4 linked regions of the Homo sapiens genome follow. The protein of the gene in region 2 purifies or fractionates together with the protein of the main gene of each other region. This does not show direct contact. Each region holds a gene or a part of one and is shown on either strand. Other genes may lie near its edges. The genes, in order: MTG1, ISLR, ATP13A3 and TUBB8.

Evidence for each region.
Region 1: the proteins of ISLR (region 2) and MTG1 purify together in Homo sapiens (affinity purification with mass spectrometry; 3 studies listed by BioGRID and IntAct, with this or other methods). This does not show direct contact.
Region 3: the proteins of ISLR (region 2) and ATP13A3 purify together in Homo sapiens (affinity purification with mass spectrometry; 3 studies listed by BioGRID and IntAct, with this or other methods). This does not show direct contact.
Region 4: the proteins of ISLR (region 2) and TUBB8 purify together in Homo sapiens (affinity purification with mass spectrometry; 3 studies listed by BioGRID and IntAct, with this or other methods). This does not show direct contact.

The regions. Positions count from the first base shown.
Region 1 is NC_000010.11:133,416,955-133,423,061, reverse strand, and holds the end of MTG1 (mitochondrial ribosome-associated GTPase 1), read right to left. Parts: intron 3,583-6,107; coding exon 3,470-3,582; intron 3,037-3,469; coding exon 2,897-3,036; 3' UTR 542-2,896; downstream 1-541. UniProt on the Homo sapiens protein: Plays a role in the regulation of the mitochondrial ribosome assembly and of translational activity. Displays mitochondrial GTPase activity.
Region 2 is NC_000015.10:74,168,389-74,177,024, reverse strand, and holds ISLR (immunoglobulin superfamily containing leucine-rich repeat protein precursor), read right to left. Parts: upstream 3,316-8,636; 5' UTR 3,006-3,315; intron 2,479-3,005; exon of another isoform or gene 2,372-2,478; intron 2,175-2,371; 5' UTR 2,167-2,174; coding exon 880-2,166; 3' UTR 154-879; downstream 1-153.
Region 3 is NC_000003.12:194,441,392-194,449,634, forward strand, and holds part of ATP13A3 (polyamine-transporting ATPase 13A3), read right to left. Parts: intron 7,246-8,243; coding exon 7,066-7,245; intron 6,619-7,065; coding exon 6,461-6,618; intron 5,725-6,460; coding exon 5,536-5,724; intron 3,396-5,535; coding exon 3,334-3,395; intron 71-3,333; coding exon 1-70. UniProt on the Homo sapiens protein: ATP-driven pump involved in endocytosis-dependent polyamine transport. Uses ATP as an energy source to transfer polyamine precursor putrescine from the endosomal compartment to the cytosol.
Region 4 is NC_000010.11:45,664-54,486, forward strand, and holds TUBB8 (tubulin beta-8 chain), read right to left. Parts: upstream 3,634-8,823; 5' UTR 3,576-3,633; coding exon 3,519-3,575; intron 3,250-3,518; coding exon 3,141-3,249; intron 3,063-3,140; coding exon 2,952-3,062; intron 2,796-2,951; exon of another isoform or gene 2,762-2,795; intron 2,620-2,761; coding exon of another isoform or gene 2,452-2,619; coding exon 1,394-2,451; 3' UTR 1,225-1,393; downstream 1-1,224. UniProt on the Homo sapiens protein: Tubulin is the major constituent of microtubules, a cylinder consisting of laterally associated linear protofilaments composed of alpha- and beta-tubulin heterodimers.

The sequences.
Region 1 (6,107 bases), on a different chromosome or scaffold from region 2:
GCCGCCTCAGCCTGCCACCTCCCACCTAGAGGAGACCATGGGCCCTGCCCCACCCACTCCAGGATGTTAGGGTCCCCTCAGCCAAAAAGGCAGCTGCCTGTGGCTCCTGTACCAACCGCCCAGCCACGCTCCATCGCCGCCCAAAGGGAGGTGCCAAGGCCAGGAACCCAAGCCACCCCGGCTCCCCTCGCCTGCCCAGGGGCCGTGGTGACTCACGGGCAGGGAGGCGACATCAGGCTGGTTCTGCCACTGAGCCCCTGAGGAATCTGACCCTCCCCAAAAGAAGCAGTGAAATGGACCAAAGGACTTAAGAATTTGGGGGGAAGTGAGGGAAAAACGTTAGGTGCTAACCACCTGCCCAGAAGAGTGGATCTCACAGCCCAGGAACATTCCCAAGCAGGAAAACCGTCCGTCCGAGGAACGTCCATCCTGGCTCTCTGCGGCTGGTGGGAAAACACACCCTGCCCTGAGGGGCTGTCCAGGCCTTCTCCCCCACACCCTCAGGCCGAGATCCGTGAGAGACCCACTTTGCTCCAACAACTTGAAACAAGTCACTTTACCCTCCTTAGGACCCATTTTGGGGGGGAAAAACCAACACATTCCAGAGCTTTCCAAGTCCTTTGAACTTCAGGTTCACATTCAGGGATCACACAGTTCTGCCTGTTCTCAGGGCACAGCAACTGCCAATCCCGCTGAAGAGGCCTCCCTGGGCACAGCACAGGCTGCACGGTGCACGCATTTCCCTGAAGGCAGCCCCTTCTTCGGAAGCAGCTGTTCCAGGCCTCGGAACAGGGCCTGGGTATCCGCGTGGTGGGCTGGCAGCTGACGGCCTGCTCAGTGGAGCCAGGAGCTAACTCAGACCCCAAAGCAAGCAGGGGGCCAGTGGCGGGGCCCAGCGCCCAGCAGGACACCCATGCAAGAGGCTGAGCCCCCCAACATCCAAGGACAGGAGAGACATGGAGTGGCGCTGGACAGTCACGACAAGGACTTGCCTCCAGCACTGGACACACCTGTGTTAAGACCAGCCCTCTGCTTCCCAGTCCCGCCAGCCTGGGGCATCCTCCATGGGCTCAGCACTGAGAGGTCTTGGGTCTGCCACGTTCTCTAGCTCTCCAGTCACCCACTCATCCAGGGTAGGAGGGGTTCTCCCTGCCCCCCGCCGTGGCCTTGGGATCTCACCCTCTCCATGTCCTGGGGACAGCCTCGCCCTCAGCCGGACTGCATCCCTCCTGGGCCTGAGCCTCGGGACTCAGTGGACACCAAAGTCAAGACCAGCACCCACCACGGGCCCTGCCAGCCTCTGCCTTCCCCAGCTGGCCTGGGTTCTGGCCTGGGTGAGGATCTGGAAGCTGTTGGCAGGACTCAACCAAGCACTGCTCTCTAGCTCCAGGGCACTAAGCCACAGGAGGCAGCGCCCTGCAGCCTCCCGTCCACACTGCCAGCAATGCCCCTGGCCCAGTGAGCCCAGACGCTCCTCCACCCCTTCCAGACCAAGCTCAACGCCTCCAAGACCAGCAGGCCAAGGCCAAGCCCTGCCCCAGATCCTCATAGGCAGAGAAGCCCTTCTGACATTTCCCCCAGGAGGCAGGGGGTGGTCTGAGTCTCCTCACAGCAGAGAGACCCACCGGAGCCCCCTCAACTTTGCAGATGCCCACCTGGAAAATGGGCTGAGCTGCACCAGACCCTCACACACCACAGCACTGCAAGCTGATGGAATGTTCCAGTTATGATGGACACTTCGTGATCTGCAATGACTGTTGATTCAGCACATTAGCATCTGACACAGCCAACCTGAATACTTCCTGCCCCAGGCGGTCAGGGTTATGGCACGATGCAGGTGGCACTCAGGGGCTAACTTCAGGCTGATGAGTGTGTGGGGTATGGGGCAGCAGAGGCAGCCAGCCAGCAAAGAGGGGCCACTGAGCACCAGGGCCCTGGTGGAGGCTGCTGTGGGACGGTCAGGCCACCACCGCAAAGAGGCAGCCGGAGCTTCTGCACAGGATGTCCCTGGCCCCAGGTCCTGCAGCACCTTAGTCCATACTACCAGCCCCACCCACCTTCCTTCCTCTTCCCTCTTCTAGGACACAGGCTGTGGACCCCTTCAGGTGCACTATAATGGGGCTGGAGGGGCCCCCACATCTCTCAGCCCCACTAATGCAGAATCCCACTACCCGTGAGCTAGAAGGTGCTCAGAGGCCAGGGGTCTCTACTGCCCATGCCGGGCGGCCTTCCAGTCATTGCACAGCAAAGCCATGTGCAGGGCGTCCCCCTCAACCCTGCCCTGAACATGCCCCAGGGCACTGAGGGGCGAAGCCAGTGCTTGGGCTCTGCTGCTGGGAGTCTCTGGTCTGTGTCTGTGTGTGCCTGTAAGTGTGAAATAAACCTCTCTGATGGCAGCAAGCCTCTCACTTGTTGTAGGACTGCAAGACACTGGACCGAAAGCCTCCAACACAAACCCTAGCTGCCAACCTGCTCATTTCTTAGGTTTCACTGGTGAGAGCAGCTTTAACACACAGGCCCAAGGCACTACGGTGCACCTCACAGGCCAGTAAGAAACAGGCCCTTTAACTGGAGATTTTAAAGGTTACAGGTTATAGCTTTAACTCCTTCTGAGACAGCATCCATTTCTCAAGAGGCCTGAGCAGGAAGCTCCGGGAGAACCAAGCATGCGGAGCTGCTCAGGGACGTCCACTGGGAAGCCTGGTGTCCACTCCCACCTGCTTGGGCCCTGCAACTGGGGTCCCTGGAGCTGGCCAGGCTGTGGGGCGCCAGAGAGCACAGCACCCTAGTGACCAGCATGGAGCTTCTGGACCGGGTGAGCTGTCTTGAGCCTCAACCACCCAGGTCAGGAGGTCTGGGAGGCCACATGCCTCCGGCCCTCCCTACCCGGACAAGTTCAGGGCAAAGTCTCAGCCGGGGGGTGGCCCCGCAGGACGTCGAGGTCCAGCATCACGGAACCCAGCAGCCCACGGCGGAAAGTCTGCAGGAAGTCACGGGCTGCCGCAGGATAGTTAGGCTGAATAATGTTCACGTTACCTGGGGGACGGGAGGGTTCAGTGAGGAAGGAGCCTTCACAGCAGGACAGGCCCAGCCCTTACCCACCTGAGGGACCAGCCCTAAGAGGCTCCATGATGGCATCAGGGAAGCCCAGGGAACGGGATCACACTCAGAAAGAAAACAGCTTGAGCTACGCTGCCCGGAGCCTCCAAGGCCAGGCATGTGAGGCCTGCAGGTGTCCACCTAGCACTGCCCAATACGCGGCAGGGCTGGTCTCACCCTCGGAAGCCTGGACTACAAGCCCTTCCTCTCCAGAACTTTCTGTAGCTCCCCTGCCCTGAAACCCATTCCCAGAAGACCCGGCGCATGCTCCTTGACACGTTCCTCTCCTCCCTGCCTCCTCCAGGGATGGCCGGGGTCCCCCAGGGTGATGGGGTGAGGCTCCGGTGCCCGCATCAGCGACCTCACTCACCCGTGCCCGTGAGCACCTTCACCTTCTGCGTCTTCCCCAGCTTCACAGCCACACTCTTCAGCACGCGCTCTACGTTGTCACAGGCACTGCCCAGGCCGTAGTGCTGCACGTACCTGCACATAGGCTGCAGGTCAGCACCAGGGGGCCCAGCACTGACACCGCGCGGCCAGCCAGGCCGGGCCCTTCCTCCTGAATGCCACAAAGGCCACGGCCAGGCACCTCCTGTGGGTGACAGTGACTGCGGCGCTGTGGATGACCAAGATGAGACTGCAGGTGACCGGTGCTGGGCCCCGGGGGAGAGCCACTATCTAAGAATCATCCCTGAGCTTCGTCCTGTGTGGCCACGGCCAGCAGCATGGGGGGCGGCTCCCACCACCGGAGCCCTTGCCGCAGCGGGAGGAGTAACAGCTGTTCACACACACAGGCTTCATCCACTCTATCCGGGGTAGGACAGGCAGGCCTCTGTGCAGGCCCAGGTCCTGGAAACTAAAAGAGGAGCACAGCAGACCATCTGCAAACATACTCTGTTTGCTGCTAAGGATGGCACTCGGTAACTTCCAGGCAGCCAGTACACCTGCATCCTCTCCACCCGGCTGGGTGTTTGAGCGGTGTTTTCCTAGCACAGGGACCAGCATGGGCTGACTAGGCACCCACCGCTGCTAAGCGTCACCCAGTGATTGTAACGGGCACTCTGACTCCTCACAGTGCAGGCTCTGGGCAGAGAGGCCTGGAGGGAAAGGCCAGCACAGAGCAGCCACTCACAGGGACAAACACCACCCTAAGCCTTGGGAGCCCGACTAACCCAGACCCAACACTCTCCCAACCTTCCTGACAGCCAGGGGTGAGGGGAACCTGTCTCGTGGCTCCCACGAGGGCAGGCTCAACCTTGAGGAGGCTGGTGCCCTCGGACCTGGTCACAGCATGAGCCGGTAACAGAGGACTCACCCCAAGGCCCAGCAAAGCAAGACATGAGCTCAGAGCCCATAGGAGCATCAGAACCCTGAGTAACACAGGTTCTAAATCTAACTTCTCGGAGGCACCAAGCATGAGCTCTGAATCAGCAGCCTCAAGGGTGCCCTGGTGCTCCAAAAAAGCTGTCCCAGGAGAGAGGAGCAAGCCTGGAGGAGGCGCCCCGGACCACCCCCGAGACCTGCCAATGGGAAGAACTCCTGAAAGGACCGGACTGTTTCCAATAATCTAACTGTCCCACAACAAAGCTCAAGAATTTTTACAGGAATGTAGATATCCATCACCTAACAAGGTGAAACTCAAAATACATGGCATCCAGCCAGGCATGGTGGCTCACGCCTGTAATCCCAGAACTTTGGGAGGCCAAGGTGGACGGATCACTTGAGGTCAGGAGTTCGACACCAGCCTGTTCACCAATATGGTGAAACCCTGTCTCTACTAAAAATACAAAAATTAGCCAGGTGTGGTGGCACATGCTTGTAATCCCAGCTACTTGGGAGGCTAAGGCGGGAGAATCGCTTGAACCCAGGAGGTGGAGGCTGCAGTGGGCTGAGATTGTGCCACTGCACTGTAGCCTGGCTGGGCGACAGAGTGAGATGCCATCTCAAAAAAAAGAAAAAAAGAAAGTCATTGGTAGCTTGATGGGGATGGCATTGAATCTATAAATTACCTTGGGCAGTATGGCCATTTTCACAATATTGATTCTTCCTACCAATGAGCATGGAATGTTCTTCCATTTGTTTGTATTCTCTTTTATTTCATTGAGCAGTGGTTTGTAGTTCTCCTTGAAGAGGTCCTTCACGTCCCTTGTAAGTTGGATTCCTAGGTATTTTATTCTCTTTGAAGCAATTGTGAATGGGAGTTCACTCATGATTTGGCTGTTTGTCTGTTATTGGTGTATAAGAATGCTGGTGATTTTTGTACATTGATTTTGTATCCTGAGACTTTGCTGAAGTTGCTTATCAGCTTAAGGAGATTTTGGGCTGAGACAATGGGGTTTTCTAGATATACAATCATGTCATCTGCAAACAGGGACAATTTGATTTCCTCTTTTCCTAATTGAATACCCTTTATTTCCTTCTCCTGCCTAACTGCCCTGGCCAGAACTTCCAACACTATGTTGAATAGGAGTGGTGAGAGAGGGCATCCCTGTCTTGTGCCAGTTTTCAAAGGGAATGCTTCCAGTTTTTGCCCATTCAGTATGATATTGGCTGTGGGTTTGTCATAGATAGCTCTTATTATTTTGAGATACGTCCCATCAATACCTAATTTATTGAGAGTTTTTAGCATGAAGGTTGTTGAATTTTGTCAAAGGCCTTTTCTGCATCTATTGAGATAATCATGTGGTTTTTGTCTTTGGTTCTGTTTATATGCTGGATTACATTTATTGATTTGCGTATATTGAACCAGCCTTGCATCCCAGGGATGAAGCCCACTTGATCATGGTGGATAAGCTTTTTGATGTGCTGCTGGCCATCAGAGAAATGCAAATCAAAACCACAATGAGATACCATCTCACACCAGTTAGAATGGCAATCATTAAAAAGTCAGGAAACAACAGGTGCTGGAGAGGATGTGGAGAAATAGGAACACTTTTACACTGTTGGTGGGACTGTAAACTAGTTCAACCATTGTGGAAGTCAGTGTGGCGATTCCTCAGGGATCTAGA
Region 2 (8,636 bases):
GGCCAGCACTCCTGTGCCTCCACAGTCTGTTGGAGTCTCAGAGGCCCCTGCCACTGTGGGCAGGCAGGCTGGCTGCCCTGACTCTTCAGCTCCTGATCCTATCTCCCAGCAGAGGCTCCTAGATCCAGACAAAATTCCAGGCAGACACGGAGGGGCATCAGAAATGCTGTTTATTTCTCTGCTGCTCCCAAGCTGGCTGGCCTTTGCAGAGGAGCAGACAACAGATGCATAGTTGGGGAGAAAGGGAGGACAGGTTCCAGGATAGAGGTTGCAGGCTGAGGGAGGAAGGGTAAGAGGAAGGAAGGCCATCCTGGATCCCCACATTTCAGTCTCAGATGAGGACAAAGGGACTCCCAAGCCCCCAAATCATCAGAAAACAGCAAGGAGCAGGAGGAGCTTGAGCAGGCCCCAGGGAGCCTCAGAGCCATACCAGCCACTGTCTACTTCCCATCCTCCTCTCCCATTCCCTGTCTGCTTCAGACCACCTCCCAGCTAAGCCCCAGCTCCATTCCCCCAATCCTGGCCCTTGCCAGCTTGACAGTCACAGTGCCTGGAATTCCACCACTGAGGCTTCTCCCAGTTGGATTAGGACGTCGCCCCGTTAGCATGCTGCCCCTGAGAGGAGAGCACAGGCAATGCTGTTAGCAGCAATGAGCACCGCAGACAGTGAGTTAGGGGATCAAATTCTATCCTAGTCACTAGTTTGGAGCAGGTCTAGAAGTTGGGGATAGCAGGTGCTCTAGAAGAGATTAGAAGGAGAGGTAGGAAAATGTGAAGTCACCCATGCAGGCCTCAGGAGTTGCCAACCCCAGACCCCTGCAGCACTTAAAGGGGCATTGGTAGGGGCAAGGGGAGGAGTTAGGGAAGCCCTGGGTGGGGCTAGAAGGAGGTGAGGAAGAAGAAGAGGAGGAGGCTTTGGCCCAGCAGGAGCAGGCCTGGGGGCAGCTGCCCAGGGACCCCTTCTGCGACTGCAGCCTCAGGGTTCCCAGCACGGCTGAGGTAGATGATGACCACATTGTCCTCCGGCCCTGATGGCTGCACCTCGTTGTCAACCGTATAGCAGCCCTTTCCCTCAACCGCTTTGCCATGGAACCTGCGCCCCAGTGTGTCCTCACCACCCTCACCGGGCGTGGCCAGTGCCACGTCCACTGAGCTCTCAGCACTGCCCAGCTCATTGGTGGCCAGGCAGCTGTAGGTGCCTTCCTCCAGCTTGCCAAAGTCGGGGATAAGCAGGCTGCCATTGGCAAAGGCCTGGAAGCGCGGCTGGGAGCTGGCCACAGGGGTGCCAGGCAGGGCACGCCCATCAGTGCCCACGTTGGGGCTGGTGATCTCCACAATGCCACTGGGTATCTGGATGTGCCAGTGAAGCTGAGGGGCCGGCTGCCCGTCCACATCACAGTGCAGTGCCAGCACAAAACCAGGCCGCAGCTCGGCACCATCCTGGCTGGGTTGGTAGCTGAGCTGCACTGAGGGCGCCGAGCATGGCAGTGGCGGCAGGCGGCTCAGCGGCGTACCCTTGAGCACATGGGGTGAGGTGCAGGCGATGTTGTCCTGCTCCGGGATGGACACGGCCGTGGTCAGGGCCCATGTCTTGAGCCACACGATGCCGCAGGTGCAGTCGAAGGGGTTCTCGTTGATCTGCAGGTGGGACAGCGCGGTGAGCGGGGTGAAGGTGCCCTCGGCCAATGTGTGCAAGCGGTTGTGGTTGAGTTGCAGCGAGCGCAGAGCACGGAGGCTGCGGAAGGCGTCGCGGGGGATGAAGGTCAGCTCGTTGCTGTCCATCTTGAGCAATTGGAGGGCACTGAGGTTGTGCAGGTCGCTCCAGGCAAAGTCAGAGATGAGATTGTGGCTGAGGTCCAGGCTCTTGAGATGGCTCAGAGAGGCCAGGGCTCCGGCGGCCACCGTGCGGATCTCATTGTGTGCCAGCCACAGCGACTGCAGCAGGGGCACCTCCCTGAAGGCACCCTCCGGCAAGCCTGGCAGCCGGTTGGCTGACAGGCTCAGTGTAGTCACATTGGCCGGGAAGCCAGGCGGCACGGATTCTAGGTCGCGGTAGGCACAGTCGGCGATCTGGAAGCCATACTTTTCCCCACAGTCGCAGGGCTCAGGGCAGGCCTGAGCCAGGCCCAGGAGAAGCGCCCACCAGAGCAGATGCAGCTCCTGCATGGTGCCTCCTGCAGAGAAAGGCATGTCACCCAGGGGATCCCGAGAACCTGCCAAAGGGACTCATTCCTCCCACAAGCCCAGCCAGAGCTCTTTCCCATCAGGAGGCCCTGTCCCACATAACCCAGCTAAATCCCAACACCACCTAGCCCACCGCCCCCATCCTACGGAAGGAGAAACTGAGGCCAAGAGAAGGGCGGAGACTTGCCCGAGGTCACGCAGCCAGGCAGGATGAAGACGGGATGGAAGAGGACCCCAGCTCCTCCTCCGAGTGGAGAGTTCTCCCTGCCTCGGCCTGTTCCTAGCTGACTTTATGACTTGAAATCTGTTTTCCAGCCACCCCCCTCCCCCAGCACTTTGCAGAACCTCCCCCTGCCCTCCCACATCCTGGCCGCAGTCCCTCCCACCGGAGCCCCCCATAGGTATGCTTTGCCTTGGCCCAGACGAGGCCCCTTGTGCAGTGCACACCACCCCCATCCACTCCACCCGCCCTCTCCCGCTCCTCCGGCCATGACCGCAGCAGACACCAGGCCTTTTCTGTGGAATCACACCCGTGGCCTGTTCTGTTCAAACTTAGCCAGGCAGCTGCCTAAATAAACCCCCGCCAGGACCTCTCAGCTGACTTGGGTGAGGCCAGAGGCTCAGCCCAAACGCAGCTGGGATTTCTGGGGCCTCAGTTGTGGGTTGTGGAAGAAGCAGATGCCCCCTGGACGGCTCCAAGCTAGGGATTGTCCCACGCACCTCAGACCAGCAGGGATGGACCAAGAGGGAACCAGCCCCTATGTCCAACAGGCCTCCCGCTCCCGCCGCTGGCCCTGGAGCCCTCCTCCCCACTGGCTTACCTTCAAGCTACTCTTAGTCAAGCGGAGCCTCTTCTAAGGTGGAACCAAAAAGCAACAGAGGACCTTAGCCCTGAGAGTCTGCAGGGCCACGGGCGCCCAAGGGAGGACTTGGATGCTGGGGCGAGGGGCAGCCTGGTCCCACCCCACCTTCGATGTGCAGGCCTGTGCCCTCCCTGCCCCAGACAGGGTGCCTGGAACCATCCACTGAGAGGAGGCGGCAGGGAGGAGCCCGGGGCAGCCCGCGCACTCCCTCCTTCCAGCAAAACAACTGCTTCTCTGCAGCAACAAGGACCTGTGTTTCATAAGTGACACCAGAAACTTGAGGGGGGAAGAGATGCCAAATTTTTTTGGGTTGTGTTTTTTCTCTCTCTCTCACTCACTTTTAGCAGCTTCAACTTCCTTAAAGACACAGCACTGTCTGGAAAGGACCCAAGAAATGATGGGGCCAGGAGGATTTTAGCGGGGGAAGGGCGAGAAATTGAATCTCATGGAAGGTGGGAGATTTCCACTTCAAACAAGAAAAAACGGGAAGCTTTTGTCCAAGCCAGGGTTGTATGTGTGTTGGTGTGTATACGTGTGTGTGTGTGTACAAGTTTGTGGGTGTGAGGGTGCGTATTTCTGGATTTGTATGTGTGTTTGCATGGATGTGGGTATGAAACCATGTACATGAGTTTGTGTGTGAGTGTGTGTGTGTGTCTGTCTTGGTGTGGGTTTGTGTGTGGAAGTGAGTGTGCATCCATGTGTGTGTGTTTCAGTGAAAAGCCAAGAAGGCCAAAGTGTACAAAGCAGATACCAACCCTTCGGTGAAAGCCAAGATGTTAGGCATTTTTTTTTTTTTTAAGAAAACATATCCTGCTGGCTCTGAGACTGAGCTGCGCTAAATGCATGTTGTTGTCCAGGGAGCTCCCAAGACTCCAGGCCCCGCCCCTCACTGCGCTCCCCACTGGCTGGGGAGGAAACAGGGAGGCCTGGCTCAGAAAACTCAGGGCGGGAGCCTGTTGACCTTCAGTGCTCCTGGCTGGGATTCTGAGCCACCCAGGCCCACTGCCCACTGGGCACCCAGAGGGGAGGCCAAGGGGCCGCACTCCCGGAGAGTTCTCTCTGTGTCCCCCACAGGGCCCAAAATCCCACTGTTGGTGCTGGACATCTACGCGGTCAGCATCGGCCTCTCTGAGCTCCACTGTTCCAACACCAACTGTGTGGAAGGGGCAGACGCCTCCAGGGTGAGGATATGTGACCCCTTTTCCAAACGGGAAGGCCCAGGGGAGGGGAATGGGGAAACAAAAGAGGCCCAAAACGAGGGAGCTGGAAGAGAAACCGAAAGATGAAGGAGCCCAGAAAAGAACTTTGTAGACTGAAGAATTTTGCTCTCCACAGACAAGCCTACCGTATCCCCTCAGTAGCCCTCCCCAAGCTTCCTTGGCCTTCCATCTGATAACTGGTTGAATTCTGCTCATGACTCAACTTACCCTCTCAGCAGGGCCAAGGGCAGACAGGGCTCATCTTTGGCTGAAAGCATCCCCAGGAAGCCTGCCCCAGCTCATCACACCCCATTCCCTGTCACCAAGCAAGGCCACAGAAGTCCCCAGCATGCTGCCTGCAAAACACCCGAGTCTGATGCTGAGGATATTATTATGGTCCAATGGAGAGCACCCTCTCTTTCCCCTGCAGAGGAAGCCCTCTCTTGCATCATCCTGACTGTGCTGGAGAATTTCTAGGAAAGTCCTGAATTTGGTGGGCCAACCAGAGGCTGCAAGAAACACATCCAGGGTTCAGTAAACCAGAGGGGAGACTCAGTGACCTCAGTGTCAGTCAGGGAGGGCTTCCTGGTGGAGGGGGCTTCACTATGTTCTGCACAGCCCATACACACACCCTCACCTGCACAAAGTCTGTGCCACCAGCTTTACCTCCAGGGTGCTCTGAGGAGCTCATAGTTCCCACCCCACCTCCCTCCTTGCAAGCACATCAGGGTCAGAGTACAAGCACCTCCTCAGCCCTCAGTTCCCAGTGACTGTTCTCTCAGACATTCCTGACTTTTCTTCATAGCTCCTCCTATAAGCTGTGATTATTTATTCATGCGTGCTTAATGTGCGACCCCTTACTAGAGAGGAAGCCCACTGAGGGCAGAGGCCTTAACTTCCCAGGTGCTATTGATCTCCAGCACAGGGAAGACACTCTGTAAGCGCCCCCTTCATGGCATGATGGACAAGTTGGGTGGTCATCAGAAGGAAGCATTTTAGAGCTCACCCACTTCATCTCCTCATCAACTTACAGATAGGGCCTTTGGGCCCAGGCTAGGGAAGGGGCATGCCCAAGACATTTTAGAGAATATTTCATACAGTGTAGGAGACCCATGCTCTGTTGGGTGGGTGAGTATGTCAGCAGCCTTCTGGGGGCAGGGAGTCTGTCCCCTCATTCCCTACCTAAGACCTTAATGACAGCCAAACACTAAGCTCAGACTCCCACCTCAAAACAGATGTGGGGGGCTGAGGGCGGGAAAAGTGGGAGGGACCAGCCCACCTGGGCAGAAATGAGACTGTGCGTGCTGGTCACTGATGTATCTTCCTGGTCTGCTCAGGTCCTGCCACTGCCTGCAAGGTGTGGCCATACCCGCTTCCACCAGGAAGGACAATAAGGCCGCCAGGATCTCAGCCAAGGACTATTGACTCTCCAAGGTGTCTCACAGTGGGACAGGTGGGCCTGCTCCTCAGCAGAGCCCAGGAGCAGTTGTGCAGGCCTCTGAGGATGGGGCGTATGACCTCCTGGGTTGCCCCTCTGCTCTTCTCTTGCTGTCAGAGCTCAAGTTCTTTCTGTAAAGCCCACCTCACAGGAGATCATGCCAGCAGGCAGGGAGACAAGTCAGAAGTCGGGCTCCCTGATCTTTTCAGGCTGGGAGCTTCCTGTGGGCTGTCTGGGCTGCCATCTCCCCTCTCCTGGCCTCCTCTAAATTGGGCTCAGGCCTGAGATGGGGACCCTTGGTGAGTATGTGCGGCCCTGACTGTCCCCAGAACTAGGAGGCCAAGCTTGGGAGCCCCTCCTGTGAGTCCTGGCCCTGTCTCCTGTGGGTCCCTGGCAGCTTGTAGGGTGACCAGCCAACAGTCCTGGTTCACCTGGAACTGATGGGTTTTCTGGGACATGGGACTTTCCATGCTAAAATCGAGACAGTCTCAGCAAACCAGTACAGTTGGTCACCCTAGCAGGGGAGGGGGGCTCACTCCCTCCCACAGTTTTTCTTTCCCCCTGCTCCCCTTCCTGCCTGCAGAGGTCCAGCCCTCTCTCCTCCCATTCCGCTGCCTCTCGCTCTGCTCCTGCTCCTGCTGCCCCTAGCCAGGGCGCCAGCCGCACCCCAGCTGTGGCTGCTCAACCAGGACTCCCCCACCCCAGAAGGCCTCACTCCCACTGACCAGGGGCACCACGTCAGCTTTTCCTGGAAGGCAAAAAAAAAGATCCTGATGAGAAGATGGAGCGAGAGGGACAAGCCCAGCAGAGACAGAAAACTGGAGAGAAACAGAGAAATGAGAGAGACACCAGGAAAGAGAGGGAAAAACAGAGAATCACAGCCTCCTTTCTGGAGGTAGAGAAAGGAAGCAAGGGAGAAAGACCCAGAAAGAGAGATGGAGGAAGAAGGTCTGAACCCGGAAACAGGCTCTGAGAGGAGAGAGGCAGTCGGGGGCTGCTGTGGTCAGCTGTGGTTGTGGGCTGTAGCCATCCCACCAAGAGGGGCAGAGTCTATCTTGGTCCCGACACTGTATTCCCCCCAGCAGCCTGCTGGAATAGCTGGGAGGAAACTCGGGGCACTCCTGGTGGGACTTGGTTAAGCCTGTGGGTGTCCTGGGAGAGAGAGGCTGTTGAGAAGATAGGGTTATGGAAGGAGCTTTGGACAGCTGGTGGGACTGCGTGCGTGCATGTGTGTGTGTGTGTGTGTGCGCGCGCACACACACACAACATGCACATGCATGGGGGGACATAGAGTGATCTGCCTAGGTCACCAAATTATGAGGCTTCCTTTTTCTAGGCCTTAGTGCCTCTGTCATACGTGAGAGTTGGTCTAAAGTCCTTTGGCCCCTATATTCTGCCTGTTTAGAATTCTCAAAAATGTCTACACTAACACAAGGGGCCCGTGTGCATGCGTGTGTTCATGCACAATTTCTGTGTGCATGCATGTGAAAGGTGAGCCTGTGACTATTCTCCATGTGTGTGTGTTGTTCATGCACAAGTGTGGGGATGTGAGGTGGAGTGAGCAGGAGCTCGTGGCATGTGCACCCAGGGCTGTGGATGGGGGAGAGGCACTGCAGGCCCTATCTTCTCTTCTGGCGTCACCCTAGCCCAGAGGTTGCAGCTGACCTTACCTGGGGTGGCCTCACTCCCATTTCCTCCCCATTCTCCTCCACCCCTTCCCACCACTTGGGCATGAGGGCTTCTCCCCTCTTCTCAGGATCTCTGACCTAGGAACCCAGGTGAGCCTTGGTGGGCAACCTGGCCACTTTCCCTGGCCTCACCCCCCTTTGCTCTGGCCCTGCTCACTGTGTGCAGCCCCACGTGTGCCCTGCTCCCACCTTGGGGCTGCTGCTCCTACTATTTCCTCTAACTGGACAAAGTCTGTCCACACCTGCAGGGCTCCCTTCCTCTTGTCTTTTGAGGTTTGTTCAAATGCCAGCTCCCCAGAAAGGCCTTCCCAGGCCACTCTATATAAACAGTCTTTGTCCCTTGCTGTCTCCTCACCTTGCCTTACTTGTCCTTCTTCCCTCCCCTCCCCTGACATCTCTGTTAGTGTGTTTCCTGTCTATCTCCGCAATCTGAATGTGAGCTCCACACAGGTGGGTACTTCGTTCTGTCCACTGCTATCCCCCTAGTGCCCAGCAAAGGGCCTGCCACTTAGTAGGTGCTTAACAAATAGTTGCTGAACAAAGGAATGAATGAACAATAACCTTGACCTTCCAGCTGGAGCCTTTGCCCCCCTCTCTCCTCCCTCCTCCGTCTGCCCAGGGCCTCCTAAGCCCTCCCTGCTGACTGTCACTGCCCTTCCACTCAGGGCCATCTCCAGCCACTTTTCTGGTCCCCTCTCCTGGCACCATTCCCACTGCTCTCTCCTGACCTTCATGTTCATCCTCAGGGACTATTTTCAGCAGTAGCACCAATTGAAGCATACTTCATAGGAATTATTTTTGTTTTTCCCCAAGCCAGTCCCAGTTTCCAGGAATGCAGAACTTGGCCGCACCCCCAGGATACATCACAGACCTCGAGTTTTCAGCCCCAGCCCTTCCCAAAGGGTAGGGGTGGGACTGGGGAGTGTTATGAATGACAGTGAGTGTTCAGTTTAAAGTTCTAGATTGGAACCAGTGCTATAGGGTCAGGATCACGACCCTCTGTTAGCTGTGGGGCACTAGGAATGGGCCAAGGGCCATTTGTTAGGGGTCAGCATGAAGGGTCTGGATTAGACGCGGGTGCAGGTTGAGTGGGTGGGGCAGGGTTAGTTTAACCCTGAGGATGAAGCAGGATCTGGGGTCTGGAATGGGGGAGTCACAATAATCCCTCTGCTCCAGGGGAAGATGGAATTGAGGGTAAAGGGCTTGGAGGGTAATGCAGAGAGAGAGAAAAGGAGAAACGGGGGGACCCAGCAGAAAGCGAGGG
Region 3 (8,243 bases), on a different chromosome or scaffold from region 2:
AGCCATACAAGCAACAAACTGGGATTTTACCAACATCTCATTGCACACATTTTCTTCTGGTGAAAGAAATCTAAGCAGAAGACACACTGAATTAGTTTCATAAATTCTAAGATTCAAGATAATATTCTAACAGGGCTTTTCTGGTTTTGTAATTAAAAAAAAAATCTTTTAAATCCCAATCTGAGCTCCTAAGAAAGAGAAACTGTCAAGTGTCAGAAATACAGGGAAAAGAAAACCAGAGGGGTGTGAACTTGAGCTGATGCTATGGCTGCTGGGGGGATGAAGGGAGGGGGCCATCTCAGTAAACTAAGAACTTGGGATTTAATACCCACAAAAGGACAGGAAACAAAGTCTGGCCCCATGCAAAGTGGGTAGCTGGTACTGAAAGGATCCCTCTGACTCAGGAAAGCCAGTACTCTTGAAGAGCTACACGCCCTTGGGAAAAGGGCAGATGAGAAAAAATTCACCCACAGACCTAAAGGCATTAATTATGAATAAGCTTGTCTTTTTCCTCACCCAAAGTCCAAGAAAATAGCTAATATCTGCATAATATTTACTATGCACCAGGCATTATTCTAAGAACTTTAAATTTATTGGCCCATTATCCTCACACCATAGAAAAGGTGTTTTATTACCCCCATTATAGATGAGAAAACTGAAGCAGGGTGGTTAAGTGACTTGTCCCAGGTTACACCGTCCATAAGTAGCAGAGCAAGGATTGAAACACAGGAGGTCAGTTAAAGCCTGTATGACACCGTTGATTACCACTGGGGCTCTTAGCCAAGCAAAGTCAGAACTTCTCCAGAGGGGAGCTCAAAGAAAATTCTGTTAAGAATGAGTCCATAATTTAAAGATGCGCTAGCAAACAATTCACCAAGAGTGTCAACAGACATAACAAAGACAGAATTAGAATCCTATAAATTTGGCCAGGGGCAGTGGCTGATGCCTGTCATCCCGGCATTTTGGGAGGCTGAGGCAGGAGGATCATTTGAGGCCAGGAGTTCAAAACCAGCCTGGGAAATATAGCGAGACACCCATACCAATTCCTATGTTTAAAATAAAAAAATAAAGAATCCCGTAAATTTAAGATAACAGAATGGCAAATCTGAAAGAATGCAAAAAGGGCATTTTAAAATTAGACATACAAAGAGTAAGACACTGTAGATGCGAGAGTAGGGGTGGGAGCAGACTTGGAAAGAACCAAGTAAACCATGTGTTGTCCAACACATGGTTAGGATTCCCAGAAGGAGAGAAAACAAAACACAAGGAAAAGGCCATAATGGAAGTAAAAAAGGCCTGAAAATTTTCCAGAATTTATGAAAAACATGAAAGCATGAAATCAAGAAGCATCATGAATCCTGTACACACAAATAAAAAGATCACAGTGAATCTGCAGAAATTAAGGGTGAAGAAATATTCTTCAAGCAACCAGAGAAAAAAAAGATTACTAAAAAGACTAAGATTTATCAGTACCAATTAACAAAAGGTATTAAGAGAAATGAAATAACAGCTTCATAGTATTGAGAGAACACAAATGTCAAACCTAGAAATCTGTATAGTTACACTACCACCCAAGTGACAGTGGGCTGCTCTGCCTATGAAGGAACCATTCTTTATTCCTTTACTTTCTTAAATTTGCTTTCACTTAAAAAAAAAAAAAAGAGTGACAGTGAAACAAAGCAAATGAATGTAGTTACAGAAGATGGCAATTTACACAAGATGCAATGGTTAAGGCATTAGTACACCTAGGTAAATCTAAGCATGCAGACTGTATAAGACCAAAATAATAATCAGAAAATATTATGCAACAAATACATATAGGAAGGGAGGAGAATAACCAAAAGTATCTTACAGTCCATAGGTTTGTTTTGGGGGGCAGGGGAGTGGTTAAAAGGCAGTATTAACATCCATGAACTTTAAGTATAAATATTGATAATGTAAGAACAAGCAGTATAAGATTGGGATGCATAAAGTGAGAAAATGAGAGAAAAAATGAGAATGTGAAAATGTGTATGTAAATTGGGGGAGCAATGGTAGAAATAATTTCTAATATATCTGAATAAATGTGCACATCATGGCACAGAAAGACTGAAAAGTAAACAAGTGGCAAAACACACACTAGGCAAACATCAGGCAAAAGAAAGCTGGTATAGAGCTATATAATTATAAGACAAAACAGAATTTAAGGCAACATGCATTACTAGAGATAAGAAAGGTCACAACGTGACATACTATTTTCCAAGACACAACAACTCTTGAAATTACATTGGCCAAACAATACTGTCTCTCAAGCTATATACACCAAAATTTAGCAGACTTTTGACAGGGGGAGGGGGGAAGACACAAACAAAACTACAGGAGTAAAACTTCTGAGCTTCAAAAAGCAACAGAAACAAAAGTAAAGAGATGAGCCAGAGACTAATAGGATAATTTTCAATACACAATATTGAAAAAGATTCCTATCCAGAAAATAAAAAAGACCTCTAACAAATAAGATAGACTTCCCAACAGAAAAATGAGGATATAAACACACAATACACAGAAGAATGCTAAATGACCCTCCCTCCAAAATGTGAAAAGATGCTCAATTTTATAAGAAATGAGAAGAATGTAAAAACCACAATGTAATACTCATATCCATCCATCTGGCAAAAATTACAAGTCTGACAATATTAAGTTTGGCAAGAATGTGGAGTAAAAAGATCTTTACCCACTGAGAGAGAAAGCATAAAGCTGAAGCCGTGCCCATGCTACGGCCCAGCCTTTCCATTTACAGGGATCTAGCTTACTGAAACTCAGCCACATGCCTACAAGGACTTATGTGTAAGAACTTTAATTCCAGCACTATTTGCAACAGTGCAGAGAAAAAAGAAGAAAAAACAGAATTGTCCCTTAGTAGAAGAACAGACAAGGTTTAATCATTCAATGGAATAAGACAGAGCAGTTAAAATTAATAAACTAGATCTGCACATATCAACATGGATAAATCTTGAAAACAAAGTTTGGAGAGGGGAAAAAAGCAGCAAAACATATGTACAGTATATCATTCATGGATACTTATTTATAGATTTATACTTAGAAAAAATATAAAATATGCAAAAATAATTTCAGAATGGCAGTAGGAATTGGGGAAGGGATACAGTGGGACTTTGGCAACTTCTATAATATTTTAATATTCTAAAGGAAGCGATCTGAAGCAAATATGGCAACATGTCCACGGTTTAATCCTGGTATAGGTACACAGTTGTCTATTACTTCCTTTATGTTTGAATGTTGCACATGTTAAAATATTAAAAATAAACTAATAAACTATCAAGTCTAACTAATATTTACCGTGCATTTTCCACTCGTTGAATCCCCCAAAGATCTAAACCATCTTCAGTTAGAGTTCCAGTCTAAAAAACAAAAAAGCACACATGCACAAAGTATGGATGATGCCTCAAAAAAAAACCCAAAAATAAAAATAAAAAGCAACCACACAGCATTAGAAACTATGCTACATATAACATAATGGAGTTCTACAGAGTTAAAAAAAGAAACAGGCAAGATCCCTGACAGAGAATGGCTTCCAGGACATATGGTTAAAGTGGGAGAGGGGGTGCAAACAATGATCACAAATCTTCTGCGTAAGGGCAGAGAGGGGTATATATTTACGTGCTTATACTATCAAAAAAAAAATCAATGGAAGGATGCACCAGTTAACCTATCTTATCAATCAATAAAGGATGCCTATAAAGCAAAAAAGGAAGGATTACTGTATAAGGAGGGCCAAGAGGAACAGGTTAAAGTACATCAGGAGGAAGCAACTGGCCAAATCCACAAGGTAAATGACCTGGTTTCTTCAACAAAATAACTGGAGATAAGGGGTAAGTAAAGGCAATTGTTACATGTTAATTGTAAGCAATGTAATCCCTATTTGGATTCTGACTGAAAAATCAACTAGTAAAAATTAGAGATATGAGGAAATCTCAACTGGATATTAGAAAAACTAAAGAATTGCTAATTCTGTTAAATGTGATAGTGATATTTTAAATATCCTCTAGACACATACTAAGGTAGTTATGAGTGAAATAATGTCTGATGCTGTCCCCTTCAAAATGAGCAGATAGATAAAATAAGACTGACAATGTGTTGATAACTGATAAAGCTGGGTAATGAGTAAATGAGTGTTTATTATACACACATCTTTTCTCCACTTTTGTCTTAAAACTTTTAGGAAAGTTTCCAAAAAAGACAAGCATAAGTGAAATTTTTTGAACTGATAAATATGAAATAATTGTAGCAGTATGTGACATATTTTTTTCTAACAGAACATGTTTCCCATTTTTTTCTGTAATAATGAAATGCACAAAAATCAAATTTGTATCACATCAGTTACCCAGAAAAGTTTGATAGAAGGTTTTCTGGTCAAAGTTTAATTCTCAGAAAACTTTAAAGAAAATTCCAGCTCAGGAAAGGAGAAACCTTTCTAAGAGGCAAGATATACTTCACACAGGTACATAATTTGTCATTTTCACATAAAATCAGTGACCTTCATAATTCTTAAACATATTCAATAAAATCATACAGCAAACACTAAACATACACACTTACAAGCAATAAAATCATAATAAATATATATGTATGGAGCCTATTGTGTTAAATAAGAATTACTGTCTAAAAAATTAAAGGTCACGTAATCTTTACTGCTACTACTATTAATACTACTAGGCCTAATTCTGGAGTTAACTGAAGCTTTGAGCAAATAAGCAATATCCAAAGTATTAAAAATTGAGAAAATAAGAAATATAGCATGTCCTCAAATACGATTGTTTTGTCCGTCTTTTTTTATAACACGATGGGTGCCAGTGGTGGGGAGAGCTGAGGCCCAGCCGCGACCACTATCTACATGGAGTTTGCATGTTCTCTCCCTGTCTGCATGGGTTTCACTCCAGGTACTTCAGTTTCCTCCCACATCAAAGCTACGCAAGTTAAGTGAACCAGCACATTTAAATGGTCCCAGTCTGCGCGAGTGTGAGTACACCCTGCGATACGATGGCATCCTGTCTAGGGCTGGTTCCTGCCTCGTTCCGCCAGTTGCTGAGATACGCTCCCACTACCCAGGAGCCTGAAATAAAACAACTGGGTAAATAATTACCTTACTTGTTTTTATTTCTTTCTTAAATGAATGTATAGCTCATATTTATTTCAATGATTAATATCAGAAGTGTTTTAGATCTTTATTTAGAAGTTTGGTGATTTTTTGTGACCAAAATATGGCATAGGAACTTAAATCTCATTTGTATCAATTAGCCTATGGTAAAACTGGTTTCATTTCATTTAAAGTTGCAGTTTTCAAGAACCTATCAGTAATGTTAAGTGAGAACTTATGGTATAGAAAAATGATGCATATACCAAATAAGTGGAGGAAAAGGAAAATTAGAGGAACATGACAGAATGTGTCCAAATTTGTTGACAAAGAAAATAAAAAACATTGATCTAAATATTTAAACGCTACGAAGTAACCTTTGAAAGTAACTATGAAACTGAACCCACCTTGTCAAAGCAAACAAGATTGAGCTGTCCACAAATATTTATTCTTTGAGGACTGATACAGAAAATACCGATTTTTTTCAGTCTTCTCTGAGCATACACAATACCAGCAGTCATTGCAGCAGGAAGTGCAGGGGGCACAGTAATTGTGATAATATCAAGAGACTCGATAATTATGACCCCAACTTGTACCTACAATTAACACAAAAATAAATGTCAAATCCCCAGTATTATTTACGGATTTAATATGGGTATTTCTTTAGTGAAAATCTGTAAGCCATTTTCAATTGTATATTTCAATTTTATGTATGTGTGTGTATATACATATCTATTAACCATATATAATTTTTTTCTTCAGATATTTCTGCAAAATAAAAAAGCTCAATGGATTATAGAATGACAGCTACTTTCAAAAGAAACTTATCTCATTTTCAAGGCGCTACATACTTCACACATGACACACTTCAAAGCCGGTCAACAATCATTATCAGATATTGACTCAGCGTGCACACACCTTACTGTACCACTCTCCACTTCTGACAAGCGGCGCCTTCAATTAACTAACCACAAATCATTTTAACACTGTATATTACATCTCAGAGGTAAAAAAGAGAAAATAAAGCTTTTGGTGATTATGTGGGGGGGTTTTTTTTCCTGTTTTTTTTTTTTAAAGTCACAAGACCAAGTAAAAGACCATCTAAACCAGAGGCACCCAAAAGAAGTATCCTTTACAATGGAAATGTTCTATAGCTGGGCTTTCTAATATCATAGCTACTAGTCTCATGACTTTGTTAGCATTAAATTAATTAAAATTAAATTAGCTTAAAATTTTAGTTCCTCATTCTCAGTAGCCACATTTCAAATCCTCAATAGCTGCATATGATAAATAATTGAGGTTCAAACCCTATTAAGAGTCCCACATACATACCTCATTTAAAATGCTATTAATAATAGTGTAGATAAACCCAATGCCAGCAACTGCCACAAGACATAGTAGAAACAAGTAGGCATCTCTGTAGAGTTTAAAATCAGTTGGTTTGGGATACAATATGGAACGAACAAGCTGTCCTTTGGAAGTACTAAATCCTTTCAAAAAAAGAAGACAATTATTGATATTTTTATAAGAAAATGAGAATTATCTCCCAAAACAGAATCTCTCTTTTTTTTTTTTTGAGACAGAGTCTCGCTCTGTCACCCAGGCTGGAGTACAGTGGTGTGATCTCGACTCACTGCAAGCTCCGCCTCCTGGGTTCACGCCATTCTCCTGCCTCAGCCTCCCGAGTAGCTGGGACTGCAGGCGCCCGCCACCAGGCCCGGCTAATTTTTTTGTAATTTTGGTAGAGACGGGGTTTCACCATGTTAGCCAGGATGGTCTCAATCTCCTGACCTCATGATCCGCCCACCTCGGCTTCCCAAAGTGCTGGGATTACAGGCGTTAGCCACAGCACCCAGCCCAGAATCTCTTTTTAAACATTTAGTAGGTATCAAATATGCTGAAACATGCAAAAAGAGATTAATTAAGATGTTTCCTACCTGTTCTAACAACTATGGCTTTGACGAGTTCTCCAGTGTAGAAACGAGTCTGAATAACAGTTGTCCCACAAAACAAAGTATGTCGTTTATGTGTTTCTGGATTATATAATTCATCTCCTATTCCTTTCACATCCACTGAAGGATTTGGCAAATTAGTCTTTGTCACTGGAACACTTTCTCCTTTAAAAAACAACAACAACAACAAAAACAGTTTACAAATTATTAAACGAAAGCACAGGAATCAGTATCGAACACCAAAAAATATTAAATTGTTAAATATTTTAAATGCTACCATACTGTTTACAATAATCACTGAGAGTTGTATATGTGGACAACATGGCTTAATTTTTTGTCTACCAATTTCCTCACATAGAAGTATCAAATATTATCTCCCACAATAATTCCAGAAAGTGATTTGTGGCTCAAAGGTAATATTTGTTTATATTTAGAAACAGTTGCATTGTTCAGTTTCAAATAATTTCAAAAAAGATTAAGTAGTTGCTATAGTCCCTGCACCTCTAAGAACTAATGGTAACAGTGGAAAGCACTGTACAGAAGAGATGTGAGGGCCTACCCCGATCCACCCCTACACACACACACACACACACACACACACACACACACACACACACACAGAACAGAAAAGACAGCTGGGCAAAAAAGAGATGTGAAAATGAGTAATGTGGTGGTTCTCTCAAACAACCACAAACAGCCAAATTCTTTTTAAAATTAATTCTCTGCAGCATTCACATTTCTTGCTTCAAAGAAGGCATGTGTGTCAGATATGTATTTGTTTGTGTGTTTTAAGATACGAGATATGTGTTTGTGTGTTTTAAGACACGACTCTTAACAGTTTCAAAATGTATTACATATAAATCATTTTCTAGCCAGATCAACTAGGACAATTAAAAAAAAAATTCACACGATTAAAATAAGATATTGGACAGGCACAGTGGCTCACGCCTGTAATTCCAACACTTTGGGAGGCCAAGGTGGATGGATCACCTGAGGACAGGAGTTCACGACCAGCCTGGCCAACGTGGTGAAGCCGTCTCTACTAAGAATGCAAAAATTAGCCATGCATGGTGGCACACACCTGTAGTCCCAGCTACTCGGGAGGCTGAGGCATAAGAGCTGCTTGAACCTGGGAGCGGAGGCTGCAGTGAGCCAAGATCGCA
Region 4 (8,823 bases), on a different chromosome or scaffold from region 2:
AGACCATTGACAACATTCAGAGAACAAGAAGGGGCCTCACCTGTTTTCCCTGACACGTAGGAGGCAGATGGGCATTCCCAGGGGACCTGGGGTAGAGCCTGTTCATCTGCCCACCCCCAAGGCTATGCTGGCTTCATCTTATCTGTGCGATAGGGCTGGGGGTGGGGGTGGGAATTACCAGGAGACCATCACACAGGCCGTGGACAAGTTCTACAAGAGCCAGGGAGAACACTGTCCGTGCATGCGTCCCAGCACCCAGCTCACACATCTCTCATTTGACAGCTTCCCCAAAGCAGGCTTTGCAGTCCAGGCTCCCCAAGAAGCCAGGGGAGGAGACTCTGCCAGGCTGAAGGGTCTGTCCCCAAAGGTGCCACCCTCACCAGGCTCATCCTGACAATCTTGGATTATTTTTGCCCTGAAGTTTTGGAGTGGGGGACAGGGAGAGAGCAGACAGTACACATTAGCCACCTTTCCAGAGAGCATCAGCCCTCCAGACTGGGGCAGGTCAGACCTCCACTCAGGCATTTTTCTCACTGGTTGCCAGTTGGGGGAAGCAGTATTTGTGAGCACCTGCCTGTCTCCCCAGCTCCTGTTCAGAAACCCCATCTGTGCCTTTGGAGGGACTGCCCTGCGCACACAGGCCCAGCAACCACCATCTACGGCCCCCAGGACCTAATCCCCTTCTACTTGGGATTCAGTGCATGTTAGCAGACACTGGGCTTGATTCCTGCCTAGTCCCTGCCAGACATCCCATGCCCACCTCATTAAGAGAATGAGGCCACACAAACACACCCAGGCCATCGTGATGATGGAGTGCCTGGGGTCCCACTTGCCCACCCTTCATTGCTGGTTCAGAGCCAGCTCTGACCACATTCCTACCCTGAGATGGGACTCTGGGGACATTGTCCACCAGGGTCACTGACCCCTTTTAACGTTCCAGAAACATGGCCAGCTGGTCCCCTAGAAGTTTGGTATATGGGATAAGCCAAGGCTTGCCTTCAGCAACAGGTTTTCCACCACGTCACTGCCCAAGGCCCAGGGCATCCCCAAGTTCATGTGAAGCCTGCCTGCCATGTCCACAGCCCATACCGACCCCTCCTGGAGCCACTGGAATGCTTGTTCCTGGGCATGTGATGAACCCAGACAGCTTCCGCCTTGCAGGACAACTATGCGCATCTGGCAGCAGTAGCCAGAGGGCCCATAGAAAGAAGATGGAGGCAAAACCAGATGCTGTGAGAATACTTTATTAGTCAAAACCGCATACTATAAAAATGCTTTAAAACGCAGCAGGAGATGTGAAGACACAAATTAACAAGCGTATAGTGACACATGGCTGTCAGAACACAGTAAAGAATCCACACTGCTTCCCCCCTTTACCTAGAAAAGGAGAGTTCTAGGCCACCTCCTCCTCGGCATACTCCTCATCCTCCTCCTCCTCGGCCGTGGCATCCTGATATTGCTGATATTCAGACACCAGGTCGTTCATGTTGCTCTCGGCCTCGGTGAATTCCATCTCATCCATGCCCTCGCCCGTGTACCAGTGGAGGAAGGCCTTGCGCCTGAACATTGCTGTAAACTGCTCTGAGACACGCTTGAAGAGTTCCTGGATGGCCGTATTATTCCCAATGAAGGTGGCTGACATTTTTAGCCCCCGGGGTGGGATGTCACAGACGGCTGTTTTTACGTTGTTGGGGAGCCAGTCAGCAAAGTAACTGCTGTTCTTATCTTGAATGTTGAACATTTGTTCATCCACCTCCCTCATGGGCATGCGACCCCTGAAAATGGCAGCCGCCGTTAGGTAGCGGCCGTGACGGGGGTCACAGGCAGCCATCATGTTCTTAGCATCAAACATCTGCTGGGTAAGCTCAGCCACAGTCAAGGCCCGGTACTGCTGGCTGCCCCGGCTGGTCAGTGGGGCAAAGCCGGGCATGAAGAAATGCAGCCGGGGAAACGGGACCATGTTCACGGCCAGCTTCCGCAGGTCAGCATTCAGCTGGCCCGGGAAGCGCAGGCACGTGGTGACCCCACTCATGGTAGCAGACACCAGGTGGTTCAGGTCACCATAGGTGGGTGTGGGCAGTTTTAGGGTCTTGGAACATATGTCATACAGAGCTTCGTTATCTATGCAAAAGGTCTCATCTGCGTTTTCTATGAGCTGGTGGACTGAGAGGGTGGCGTTGTAGGGCTCCACCACGGTGTCCGACACCTTGGGCGAGGGCAGGATGCTGAATGTGTTTATGATCCTGTCTGGGTACTCCTCCCGGATCTTACTGAGCAGAAGGGTACCCATCCCAGACCCAGTCCCCCCACCCAGGGAGTGGGTCAGCTGGAAACCCTGCAGGCAGTCACAGCTCTCAGCCTCCTTTCTGACAACGTCCATCACTGACTCCATCAGCTCCGCGCCTTCGGTGTAGTGTCCCTTGGCCCAGTTGTTTCCGGCCCCACACTGACCTGTAAGACAGCACAGCCGGTCACTCGACGGCCAGGTATACGGTCATCAGTGGTCACCACCATAATGCAGAAAGAGCCAAGCGTCACACGTGAGGTGAGAGCACCGTTCGCCCTGCAGGTGGAGCAGATGAAACCCCCTCCCCCAGAGTTACAGGACAGCAGCTTCCCCTGTTAGGAATTAAGACAGGAGTCAAACCTGAGACGGGTTCACAGACCTCGCTGCAGGTGGCTCCTGCCCATTCTCAGGAAAGGCAGTAGCCACGGCCCCAGCTCAGGTTCTTGCAGGGAGTTTACATCAGTAACTCCTCACCTTGAGGAGACACCAGGGCCTTCCTCCCGAAGCCCATTTAGGAGAGGCAGATTGAGCGACTCGACTCGGAGGATAGGAGGGTGTTCAGGGGCCCTAGCTCCACAGTTCCCAGAGGATGACCTTAGCACACTCCTGGATTTTGAGCTGCCCTGGCTAAGGAGCCGCACCCCAGTCCTCGCCCGCAGCTCACCGAAGATGAAGTTGTCTGGCCTGAAGACCTGCCCGAAGGGCCCCGAGCGCACAGAGTCCATGGTGCCCGGCTCCAGATCCACGAGCACAGCGCGGGGCACGTACCTGCCACCTGCGTGGGGCGGGAGGGCATGAGCGAGGGGAGGGCCGCGTTCCCAGGAGGGCGGTGGGGGAAGGACGGGGGTCTCACCGCTGGCCTCGTTGTAGTACACGTTGATGCGCTCCAGCTGCAGGTGGCTGTCCCCGTGGTAGGTGCCAGCGGAGTCGATGGCATGTTCATCAGAGATCACCTCCCAGAACTGCAAGAGACGGGAGGAGACAGACAGGCCGGGGCTGAGTCAGGGAGGCGCCCCAGCCGCTCTCCCACCCCCACCCTCATCCGCACCCCCATCCCTAGGCCGCCCTGTCCCTGGGGTCCACCCCGGCCGCCTCGCCAGCCACCCGGTTCCACCGTCCCCGGCAGGGAGCCCAGGGGCCGCAATGCATGGGCACCGCCCCCGCCACTGCCAACACCTTCCCCGGCCACCCGGCAGGCCCGGGCTAGGCCCTCAGAGCCCCGGCTGCCAACCTTGGCGCCGATCTGATTCCCGCACTGCCCGATCTGCGTGAGCACGATCTCCCTCATGGCCAAGGCGGGATTAGGACGGCAGGAGAAACGTGAGAAGGAGGAGCAGACGCGCAGCGACCCAGCCCGCCCTCCGCCAACGTTTAAATAGCCCCGCGCCCACCTCCCTCCGCCTCGGATTCGGCTCCCAGAATAAGCAACAGCTTTACTTCCACACAGGTGCACCCACCTGTGGATCCCCTGGCGCTGAACATCTGTTGGAAAGCTCAGGTGTCCTTGCGTGGTCCTTTCCACGTTGGGGAAAGCTGCTCGCTGGAGAACTTCCTCCCGCGTCTTTAGTAAGACTAAATCCCTAGCTGAGCTGAAACTGAATTTTCCTCCCATGTGGGAGGGGAAGACTCTTGTTTCCATATGCACGGAGTGCCTTTGCACCTGTCCTAGATTGATGACATATTTTTGTAATTGATGAGTCTTTTCATCTATTAGGAGATCTGTGGTTAGGAAAGGCCTTCCACATGTGAACTCAACAGGACTCAATTATACGTTTTACTTTGGAGCAGTTCTAACCCACAATAAGCTATGGGTGTTAGAGACAGTCAGGCCTCTGATTTAGCTGGAGTCTTCTTTAGAGTAGGGTTAGCCCTTTCACCTTTCCAGAGGACTGTGGTCTCCAGCAGAGTGAAGGTCATATTGGATTCTTAAAGCTGAGGACAGGTTTTGGGATACGCCTGCTGTGAAAGATGGGCCATTGTCACTTTGCAGGCTTTTGGATTACCCAAACTGAGGAGTTATTTCTTCTGGTAAACATTTTTCAGATGGGGTGGGGAATGCCTCGATCTAACCAGTGAAGGTGTCAGTAAGCATTAGCAAATATTTGAATCTCCTGCAGAAAGGCTTCCGGGTAAATTAGAGTGGCCAGTTCTCACCTGGATAGGTTCCTCAATTTTGGACAGGTTTAACTGGAGAAGGAGAAAATTGCTGGCCATTTGAGTCATGTCAGGCACAAAGCTCACAGGGCTGAGTCACCTGTTTTAGTGTCTTGAAAAGATTTACCCCTATAAACAAATGAGACATTAACAGAAACAAAGAATCCCTTCTAGGGTGAAAAGAATCATGAAAGTGCTGAGTTATACTCCTGTGATTGGTACTTGGCATTAGTAATTTATTACCATCATTCAGCCCGAGGGGCCCTGGACTGAAATGCAATCCCTGGCCCATTTTCGTTCTTCTTCAGGGTATTCTGGCCCAGTTCTATGTATGCTGACCAGCACGCCCACAAGCTTCATTGGCCCTTTCAGTGCAGGGGCCTTGGCTGTGGCATCTACAAGGGCATTTCCTTTTACATGGTCAGTCTCTCTTTTGATGTCCTCTGCAATTAATTATACTCACTTTTTGGCAGCAAAGCAGCACTCTAACAAGCTCAAAATCTGAACGATGTTGTATGGAAAAGCCCTTGGGGGTCAGGAGTCCCCACCCATTCCAAATTGCAGCATAAGCATGAAGCACTAAAAAATCATACTTGGAATCAGTGTAAATGTTAACTTTTAAATTCTTTCCCAACTGCAGGGGCCTAGTTAGTTCAATTAACTCAGCTTTTTGAGCTGCTGAGGTCGAAGCCAGCAAGGCTTGTGCCTTGATTGATTCTCTTGTGCTAATAATAGCATATTTAGCCCTCCTGTTTTCCTGATGCATAAAACAACTTGCATCTGTTAACCACTCTTCCTTGGGATGGTCCAGGGAATCATCTCTCTTATGTCTGGCCTGCTAGAATCAATTTGTTTCATAACCTGTGACATGCTTTGGCTGTGTCCCCAGTCAAATCTTATCTTGAATTGTAGCTCCCCTAATTCCCATATATTGTGGGAGGGACCCAGTGGGAGGTAATTGAATCAGGGGATGGGTCTTTCCCATGCTGTTCTCATGACAGTGAATAAGCCTCATGAGATCTGATGGTTTATTTATTTATTTATTTTTGAGACAGAGTCTTGCTCTGTTGCTCAGGCTGGAGTGCAACCTCTGACTGCTGGGTTCAAGCGATTCCTGTCTCAGCCTCCCGAGTGGCTGGGATTACAGGCGCCCACCACCATGCCTGTCTAATTTTTCTACTTTTAGTATAGACGAGGTTTCACCATGTCGGCCAGGCTGGCCTCAATCTCCTCACCTCAGGTCATCCACTGCCTTGGACTCCCAAAGTGCTGGGATTACAGCTGATGATTTTACAAAGGGGAGTTTCCCTACACAAGCTCTTTTGCCTGCTGCCATGTAGAAGATGTAACTTTGTTCCTCACCTGCCTTCTGCCATGAGTGTGAGGCCTCTCCGACCATGTGCAACTGTGAGTCAATTAAACCTCTTTTCTTTATAAATTACCCAGCCTCAGATATGTCTTTATTAGCAGCATAAGAACAGACTAATACAGCCTGTATGCCAGAAAGACTAGAAGCACCTGTGGACTCTGACAGCTAAGTAGCTGGGTTTATGGCTTGGCAGGCTTTAAGGGTTGTGTCTGGAGGGTCGGTCTAGCAATAAGTCCTGACACTTTCATAAATATTCTCCTATTATCCACTGCTGCCCTTTACCTTCTAGGACCACCTTCCCTTGGTGTGGGGTCAAAAACCTGTAGGTGCTGTTCTAATGTTAGTTTATTATCTTTGCCAACTAGAAAAGTGGTAGCAGCAATAGCTCTAAGACATCAAGGCTAAAAGTCAGAGGATCGCTAAGGAAAGTAAAAGCTAAACTGTTTGGGGCCTCTTTCCTGGGGCTGCCTCCAGGCTACTGCAAAACGGAGGCGGTGAGCAGAAAGGCAACAATATGCAGAGCACTCAGGTGAGGGACAAAGAGCACAAGGTGGACAGTCCAAAAAGAGAAAGTGGCAAACATCTTGTTTAGCCAAATCCATTCTTCTCAATGTTCCCCAGGGCCTCTAACCCTGTGGGCTTGGCCTCTAATCTGAGTATGACACCCCCAGGTCTCTACTTTGGGCTGAGTCTCTCACCCTAATATTATACCCTAGGGCCTCTCACTTAAGTAATAGTGGGTAATCATTCTTGCCAACCTGAATGGCTTCATGACCCTAAAACACAGCCCACTTGCCAGCTAAATGATTCTATGTGGATTGTTTTCCTTGGAGTGGGGGTCTTGTCTTGGTGTCCCTTCATGGTGTTGCTGAAAGATGTTGCTAGAAAAGAGGGTCCTGACACAGACCACAAAGTAGGATTCTTAGATCTTGTGCAGTAAAAAATTTGAGGTGAGTCAGAGAGCACAGTGAAAGAAGCAAGTTTATTAGAAATGACTCCATTACAGAGTTGGACATCCTCAGAAAACAAGAGCAGGAATGCATTGTCTTTTGTTAGTGTCTCTAACTATAAAGAGAAAGAGTTATAATTAAACTTGGAAGGTGCAGATGTACTCATTAAAGTCGGGGCTATTCGTTTTAACAATGACCATTAACCCGTTGACCTAAGCTAGCTCGTTAATATTATCTTTAACAAAAAATGCTGCACTCCTAGGACATTTATACATTTTTCAGGCTTGGTGGAAGATGTCTTGTATGGCCATAAATATTCTGCAATTGTAATCTGTGGCCAGTAAAAAAATGTGGCTATTTTCAGACCATAGGTATTAACCTTCTAGATGCCTTGTGAGTACCTAGCTACTCATATTAAGATAGAGAATTCTAGTCATGTGTATTAAACTAGAAGCTTGGTAACCACGAGTTCCTCTAACACAACAAGTATACTCCTCAAGGAGAAAATGTATTTCTCAGGAATTTTGTGCATTTTGTTTGATGGCATTTGGTATGTTTACCAAAATGGCAGAAAAGAGTGAAATTAGTACTCAAAGATTTCTCAGGATTGGACATAAAGTAAACAAAATGATTATAGTTAATATGCAAGTTGACACAGTTGATATGCAAAAGAAATTTTGTTTGAAACATGAGATTTTTATTTTTATTTATTATTATTATTTTGAGACAGAGTCTTGGTCTGTTGCCCAGGCTGGAGTGCAGTGCACCATCTTGCCTTACTGAAACGTCTGCCTCCCAGGTTCAAGTGATTCTCCTGCCTCAGCCTCCCAAGTAGCTGGGATTACAGGCATGAATCACCACACCCAGCTAATTTTTGTATCTTTAGTAGAAATGGGGTTTCACTCTGTTGGCCGGGCTGGTCTCAAACCCCTGACAACAAGTGATCTGCCCACCTTGGCCTCCCAAATTGCTGGGATTACAGGCATGAGCCACTGCTCCCAGCCACAATGAGGCTTTTAAATAATTCTGATTTCCTGCTGTTGAGCAGGGAGCTGAGCAAATTCAACAGATCATGAGCCTAAAGTAGAAGACTGAGGACAAACTCTAGAACACATGTGATTAAATTAATTACAATGGAAACCAAAACAAATTTAGTAAGGCCATACCTCTTAGTTTCAAGATGTTTCCCCTCATTTTGAAATGTGGTGTTATTCAGTGGAAAAGAAAAACAGTGTTTATCTCCAGAGTAAAGAACAGGGTTCCCTGCAGGGACTGACTGACTGAGAGCTATGGCTCAGGATTAAAAATTCTTCTTTTTTCCACTTATAAACTAAAAATTAATTTCTAAGCCCCTATTGACTAAATGGACACCTCTTCTTGGATAAGGACATTCCAAAGTTAACCTGAAAAGCTACTTCAAGCCATGGGTCACACCTGCCTCATTAGACTCTCCTCCTTTTGGTTTTAATTGTAATTTTTAATTAATTTTTGTGGGTACATAGTTGGTGTATATATTTATGGGGGTACATGACATACTTTGATACAGGCATGCAATCAGTAATACACAATAAAAAACAGGGTATCCATCCCCTCAAGCATTTATAGCTTGTTTTATAAACAATCCAATTATACTATTTTAGTTTTTATAAAATGTATAAATTATTTTTTTACCATAATCACCCTGTTCTGCTACCAAATACTGTCTTATTCATTCTTTCTAACAATTTTTTGTACCCATTTCACATCCCCACTAACCCCGTTCCCCCACTGCCCTTCCCAGCCTCTGGTAACCAACCTTATACTCTCTATCTCTATGACATCAATTGTTTTGAATTTTAGCGCCCACAAACGAGTGAGAACATGTGACATTTGTCTTTCTGTGCCTGACTTATTTCACTTAACATAAAAACTTTCAGTTCCATTTCTGTTACTGCAAATGACAGACTCTCATTCTTTCTTATAGCTGAATAGTACTCCATTGTGTATATGTACCACATTTTCTCTATCCAGTCATCTGTTGATGGACATTTAGGTTTCTTCCAAATCTTGGCTATTAGCAACAT